2 linked regions of the Homo sapiens genome follow. The protein of the gene in region 1 interacts with the protein of each later gene in a pairwise test. Each region holds a gene or a part of one and is shown in the gene's direction. Other genes may lie near its edges. The genes, in order: SHCBP1 and ZUP1.

Evidence for each region.
Region 2: the proteins of SHCBP1 (region 1) and ZUP1 interact in a two-hybrid assay, tested with the Homo sapiens proteins (one large-scale study listed by BioGRID and IntAct).

Annotation. Positions count from the first base shown.
Region 1 is NC_000016.10:46,586,635-46,590,461, reverse strand, and holds part of SHCBP1 (SHC SH2 domain-binding protein 1), read left to right. Parts: intron 1-3,656; coding exon of another isoform or gene 3,657-3,704; exon of another isoform or gene 3,705-3,733; intron 3,734-3,827. UniProt on the Homo sapiens protein: May play a role in signaling pathways governing cellular proliferation, cell growth and differentiation. May be a component of a novel signaling pathway downstream of Shc. Acts as a positive regulator of FGF signaling in neural progenitor cells.
Region 2 is NC_000006.12:116,651,723-116,655,549, reverse strand, and holds part of ZUP1 (zinc finger-containing ubiquitin peptidase 1), read left to right. Parts: intron 1-3,357; coding exon 3,358-3,546; intron 3,547-3,812; coding exon 3,813-3,827. UniProt on the Homo sapiens protein: Deubiquitinase with endodeubiquitinase activity that specifically interacts with and cleaves 'Lys-63'-linked long polyubiquitin chains. Shows only weak activity against 'Lys-11' and 'Lys-48'-linked chains.

The DNA of each region.
Region 1 (3,827 bases):
TTGTTTAAGTTCTTTGTAGATTCTGGATATTAGCCCTCTGTCAGATGGGTAGATTGTAAAAATTTTCTTGCATTCTGTAGGTTGCCTGTTCACTCTGATGGTAGTTTGTTCTGCTGTGCAGAAGCTCTTTAGTTTAACTAGATCCCATTTGTCAATTTTGGCTTTTGTTGCCATTGCTTTTGGTGTTTTAGTCATGAAGTCCTGCCATGCGTATGTCCTGAATGGTATTGCCTAGATTTTCTTCTAGGGTTTTAATGGTTTTAGGTCTAACATTTAAGTCTTTAATCCATCTTGAATTAATTTTTGTAAGGTGTAAGGAAGGGATCCAGTTTCAGCTTTCTACATATGACTAGCCAGTTTTCCCAGCACCATTTATTAAATAGGGAATCCTTTCCCCATTTCTTGTTTTTGTCAGGTTTGTCAAAGATCAGATGGTTGTAGATGTGTGGTATTATTTCTGAGGGCTCTGTTCTGTTCCATTGGTCTATATCTCTGTTTTGGTACCAGTACCATGCTGTTTTGGTTACTGTAGTCTTGTAGTATAGTTTGAAGTCAGGTAGCGTGATGCCTCCAGCTTTGTTCTTTTGGCTTAGGATTGTCTTGGCGATGTGGGCTCTTTTTTGGTTCCATATGAACTTTAAAGTAGTTTTTCCAATTCTGTGAAGAAAGTCCTTGGTAGCTTGATGGGGATGGCATTGAATCTATAAATTACCTTGGGCAGTATGGCCATTTTCATGATATTGATTCTTCCTATCCATGAGCATGGAATGTTCTTCCATTTGTGTCCTCTTTTATTTCATTGAGCAGTGGTTTGTAGTTCTCCTTGAAGAGGTCCTTCACATCCCTTATAAGTTGGATTCCTAAGTATTTTATTCTCTTTGAAGCAATTTTGAATGGGAGTTCACTTATGATTTGACTCTCTGTTTATCTGTTATTGGTGTATAGGAATGCTTGTGATTTTTGCACATTGATTTTGTATCCTGAGACTTTGCTGAAGTTGCTTATCAGCTTAAGGAGATATTGGGCTGAGACGATGGGGTTTTCTAGATATGCAATCATGTCATCTGCAAACAGGGACAATTTGACTTCCTCTTTTCCTAATTCAATACCCTTTATTTCTTTCTCCTGCCTGATTGCCCTGGCCAGAACTTCCAACACTATGTTGAATAGGAGTGGTGAGAGAGGGCATCCCTGTCTTGTGTGACAGTTTTCAAAGGGAATGCTTCCAGTTTTTGCCCATTGATTATGATATTGGCTGTGGGTTTGTCATAAACAGCTCTTATTATTTTGAGATACATCCCATCAATACCTAGTTTATTGAGAGTTTTTAGCATGAGACGCTGTTGAATTTTGTTGAAGGCCTTTTCTGCATCTATTGAGATAATCATGTGGTTTTTGTCTTTGGTTCTGTTTATATGATGGATTACGTTTATTGATTTGCATATGTTGAACCAGCCTTGCATCCCAGGGATGAAGCCAACTTGATCATGGTGGATAAGCTTTTTGATGTGCTGCTGGATTCGGTTTGCCAGTATTTTATTGAGGATTTTTGCATCGATGTTCATCAGGCATATTGGTCTAAATTCTCTTTTTTTGTTGTGTCTCTGCCAGGCTTTGGTATCAGGATGATGCTGGCCTCATAAAATGAGTTAGGGAGGATTCCCTCTTTTTCTATTGATTGGAATAGTTTCAGAAGGAATGGTACCAGCTCCTCTTTGTACCTCTGGTAGAATTCGGCTGTGAATCCGTCTGGTCCTAGACTTTTTTTGATTGGTAGGCTATTAAATATTGCCTCAATTTCCGAACCTGTTACTGGTCTATTCAGAGATTCAACTTCTTCCTGGTTTAGTCTTGGGAGGGTGTATGTGTTGAGGAATTTATCCATTTCTTCTAGATTTTCTAGTTTATTTGCATAGAGGTGTTTATAGTGTTCTCTGATGGTAGTTTGTATTTCTGTGGGATTGGTGGTGATATCCCCTTTATTAGTTTTTATTGCATCTATTTGATTCTTCTCTCTTTTTTCTTCTTTATTAGTCTTGCTAGTGGTCTGTCAATTTTGTTAATCTTTTCAGAAAACCAACTCCTGGATTCATTGATTTTTTGAAGGGTTTTTTGTGTCTCTATTTCCTTCAGTTCTTCTCTGATCTTAGTGATTTCTTGCCTTCTGCTAGCTTTGGAATGTGCTTTCTCTTGCTTCTCTAGTTCTTTTAATTGTGATGTTAGGGTGTCAATTTTAGATCTTTCCTGCTTTCTCTTGTGGGCATTTAGTGCTATAAATTTCCTTCTACACACTGCTTTAAATGTGTCCCAGAGATTCTGGTATGTTGTGTCTTTGTTCTCGTTGGTTTCAAAGAACATCTTTGTTTGTGCCTTCATTTCGTTATGTACCCAGTTGTCATTCAGGAGCAGGTTGTTCAGTGTCCATGTAGTGGAGCAGTTTTGTTTTGAGTGAGTTTCTTAATCCTCAGTTCTAGTTTGATTGCACTGTGGTCTGAGAGACAGTTTGTTATAATTTCTGTTCTTTTATATTTGCTGAGGAGTGCTTTACTTCCAACTATGTGGTCAATTTTGGAATAAGTGTGATGTGGTGCTGTGAAGAATGTATATTTTGTTGATTTGGGGTGGAGAGTTCTGTAGATGTCTATTAGGTCCGCTTGGTGCAGAGCTGAGTTCAATTCCTGGGTATCCTTGTTAACTTTCTGTCTTGTTGATCTGTCTAATGTTGACAGTGGGGTGTTAAAGTCTCCCATTATTATTGTGTGGGAGTCTAAGTCTCTTTGTAGGTCTCTAAGGGCATGCTTTATGAATCCGGTGCTCCTGTATTGGGTGCATATATATTTAGGATAGTTATATGCACCCATATATATTTAGGATAGTTAGCTCTTGTTGAATAGTCTTTTTCTATTGTTTTAATTTCAACTTGCCTATATTCTGTTTGAAGTGAGTTGTAGACAGCATATAGTTGAGTCATGTTTTTAATCCACTTTGGCAATCTTTGTCTTTTAATTGTATTTAGACCACTTACATTTAATTATTGATATTAAATCTTTAGTTTATTTCGTGTTTTCTGTTTGTTATGCTTTTCATTTCTTGATTTGCTTTTTTTCTGCCATCCTGTGGATAGCTGAACATTTTTCAGAATTTCATTTGTTTTTGAGAATATCTCTTCATATAACTTTTTTAGTGGTCGCCCTAGGTTGTATATTATATGTACATAACAGTTTACTGGTGTCACCAGTTCAAGTAAAGTATAGAAACCTTGCCTCCTTTTATTATTCTCTACCATCTCCTTTTTATAATTGTCTTAAACATTTGCCTTATGTACGTACATCTAGAACCATATTAGAGAATTTTATGATTTTTGTTTCAAATGTCAAACATAATTTAGAACACTCAAGAGAAGGAAAGCTTATTGTATTTACCTATATCTTTGCTTACTGTGTTCTTTTTTTTTCTTTTTGATGTTCCAGGATCTTCTCTTTTATCATTTCTTTTTTGTTTAGATAACTTCCTTTAGTCATTCTATGAAGATACGTCTGCTGGTGACAAATTTTCCTATTTTTCCTTCTTCTTAGAATATCTTGATTTCCTCCTCATTCCTGAAGAATATTTTCACTGGTTATAGGATTCTGGGTTGACAATTTTTTTTCTTTTAGCCCTTGAACAATACTGTGTGTCTTTCATCTGACGTCCATGGTTTCTGATGCTGTCAATCACATTTTCTCTCCTATAGGTAAGGCATAAAATTTTAATTGATGCTTTCAAGATTTTTGTTTTAAGCTTACACTAGTTTAATTATGATGTATGTTGGCGTGGATTTCTTTGAG
Region 2 (3,827 bases), on another chromosome or scaffold:
TTTGCCATATTTACTTAAAAGTTTTTAAAGCTTCAACACCTTTGATAGGTATTCAAAGCCCTTTATGTACACTTTTTCTAATTCTAATTTGCCCTCCCCACAAGGGAACTATTATCCCAAGTTTGATATTTATCAGTCTCATACATGCTTTAGTACTCTTACCATGTATGTACATTTCCATAAAATATTTTGCAGGTGTTTATATATAAATGGGATACAACATGTATGCTATAAATTGTTTTGCTCAAATATATTGGTTCTTACAGTTCTACTTCATTCATTTTAGCTGCTGTGTAGTATTTCCTTGTATGAATTGTAGCTAACTTATCTTGTTTTCATATTGATAAACATTTAGATTGTTTCCAGTTTTCTACTCTTATAATTTATGAACATGTCTACTTCAGGAGTTTCTCTAGTATTACATCCAGAACTGGATGTAGCTAATTATAGCTAACTTATCTTGTTTTCATATTGATAAACATTTAGATTGCTTCCAGTTTTCTACTCTTATAATTTATGAACATGTCTACTTCAGGCGTTTCTCTAGTATTACATCCAGAACTGGAATGCTAAGTTAAAGGGCGTGCAAATCTTCAACGTTGTTAAGGTTATTATAGAATTGTTTTCCAAAGTGCTTGTAATCTACATTCACACCAGTGTATTTCACACATAGTATGGTGACACTTTTAAATTTTTGCTATTTAACAGGTTATGAGATGATACATGTTTTAATTTGCATTTTCTGGATTACTCCTGAGTTAGTTTCCTCTTGAACGAATTACCTGTTCTCTTCCTTTCTCTATTCTCTATTGAGTTGTTTGTTCTTACTGATTTATAGGAGACTGTTAAGTATTCAGAACACTATTCTTTCATTAGTTATATGAAATCCAAATATCTTTTTCAGGCCTGTGGTTTGTGTTTAAATGTTATATATAGTGCCTTTAATTAGACAGAAGTTTTGAATTTGAATGTAATCAAAGTTCTCAATCTTTCTATTTATTATTTGTGTCTTAAGTAACTCCCCCATCTTTAAGATCACAAATATATACCTTTATGTTTTCTTCAAATATTTATATTTTGCATTTCATATTTTGATTTTAAATCCACCCAGAATTTATTTGCATGTGTATGTTGGAGGGAGGAGGGAGAAGATAGGAATCTGATTATTTTCTCCTTGTTTATAACAGTCCTTATAGCAAGTACATATTATGCTTATTTATTTCACTACCATTTATTGAATCTGCATTTTCTCCACCTATTTGTGATACTATATATTATAGATTTTCATATATCCATGATTCTGTTTCTAAAGGCTGCCTTTATATTTCTTCAGGGGTCTCCATGTAAAAAAGTTCTCACTATAGCATAGAGCATCCTCCAGATGTGTGATATGATTCATTAGGATACAGGAAGAAAATATTAAATATGTCTGTAAAAAAGCACACTGTCCTGTAATATAGAAGTGATTTAGTGGCAGAGATTTTTATTTTTCGTTAATTATGCAAGTGTTAATTTAAGCAGCTATCATTTAAAGAGTCTTCACTTATATACTGCAATCTTGTTATAATTTTAACAACAGAATATAATTTAACTGAAGATAAATTTACTGTGGAAAATATCTAAAGACATTTAGGTGCTAAGGAATAAAAAGTATAAGGAAATTTCCCCCTAAAGCAGTTGCATGATGTTGCTAAGACAGTGTTGCTCTCCATCTGATATGTAACATATATACTAAAATGTACTAGAATGTTTATTACTTTCCTTTCTATTTTTTCTGTCCCCTACTCCACCTCATTCTTAAAGGGCTGCCTCAAATCTTGATCTCTTCATCAAAGTCTATGATATTAAAATCTACATTTAGCTTTCTTTCTCTGAATTCCTAGGGTACCCATTCATTCCATGCTACAACATTTAGTACTCAGTTATATACTATTTTAATTGTTGTTTTTCTTGAATTCAAGTCTTTCTAAGTTCTTTGGAAGTGGTTACAGTGATCAGTATTTCACCTTTTCATGGTGCAAGGCACAGCTACAACTATTGGTTCATTTAACTGTTTTTATTTATTGATCTTTTATTGTCTTTATTAAAGACAAAAACCCATTTTCTTCTAGGAAACCCTTCATTCAAGCAAAAAGAATTTAGTTATTGTCTTTGGTGCCACATGCTATGAGAAAGTTATGGGGCATATAATAAGATCTCCCTACCCATAGGCTTCACAGAGTCTGTAGAGTATGTAAATATACACAAAGAATTATAGTATTCTGTGACTGAATGTTGCTGGTACCTTGGGGACACAAAAATAGGGTAGAATCAGAAAAAGGGTCTATGAAGACAGTAGCATGTGAAGGATCTATAATTTTGAAACATAAGGAGAATATACTAAAAGCAGGAAAGGGGCCGAGTCAGATGTCCCTTGTCCTAACACCTTGTTTTTCCATATTATAGCACTTGTTATAGTTGGGGTCGATGACATTTTAAAGGATATTATCATATTTATCTTTTTGTACTTAGCATTTAGATAGTGCCAGGTGTATTAAAAAGTACTTAGCAAATACTGAATTTGAAAATTTAATAAAACTCTATGGGCCAAATTATGTTTAATGTGTTCAGTTAGGCCACAGCCAAAATTACAGCAAGAAGAGTAGTGTGAAATAAAGATAAGACAGTGGATAGCTTTCTGTAGACTTCATATAACATAGATTAGAACTATTCTAATTAGGTTTATAAGGCTATTAATAAGATTCCTAAACCTATTGTTCTGCCTTAAGAAAAGTTGTCTTCTGTTGTCTCAAACAAATTAATTAATCTCCCCAAATAGCAAAATGGAATATGTTACTAAAGGGTTGAAATTTAGCGTATTGGAGTATGAGATATGTTTATTATTCATGAAGTCAAGAGTTTTTAAATGAAAACATTTGTGTATTCTCATGCTTCGAAAATTGCAAAATCTGCAAAATAAAATCTTAAATTACAAAAAAATTAAAACTATTGGTAATAGGGAGCTATTAATATTTTTTGATTGGGAGCAAATTGATTAAGACTGAGTGATCTCCAGTAGTCTATACAATAAAATGGAGACACAAGAAGAACATTCATTCAACAGTTGTACTTTATGTGCTGGGCCCTGCAGATGCAGAAAATTTCAATGAACTGTAATAAATAATATGCTAGTGTTAGGAAACTTGGACTGTAGTAACAAGCAAGGACACAAACTAAGGTTATAGCAAGAAGAAGGTGAAGAAGATGGAATTAACAGGATTTAGGTATGGTGCGTGAAGGAGAGGTTGATATTAAAAATGTATGAGATAGCAATATAAAGGTGATAATGACTGCTTCTGAATCTCTTTTCTACTTTAGGAATTATTGAAGCACTTCATAGGTATTATCAGAATGCTGCCACAGATGTGAGACGGGTGTGGCTTTCTTCAGTGGTGGATCACTTTCATTCATCTTTAGGCGACAAAGGTTGGGGTTGTGGTTACAGAAATTTCCAAATGCTACTTTCATCATTATTACAAAATGATGCTTACAACGATTGCTTAAAAGGTATGTGAAATCTAGTACTCTGAACTTGTCATCTGATAAAATACATATGATATAGAATGATATAGCATACACAATTAATAGCTTTAACAGTTAGTGGATATTTATATAAGAAACCTGAATTCTGGTTAGAGGAAGAGAAAATGATAGAAGATGTCAGGAATAACTGTCTTAAAAACCGTAAAGTTCCCCGAGTACATAATACACTGCTAAATATTATTCAGTACTTTATTAACAGTCATGTAACATGTTTGCTTGTGTAATTTTAGGTATGTTGATTCCTT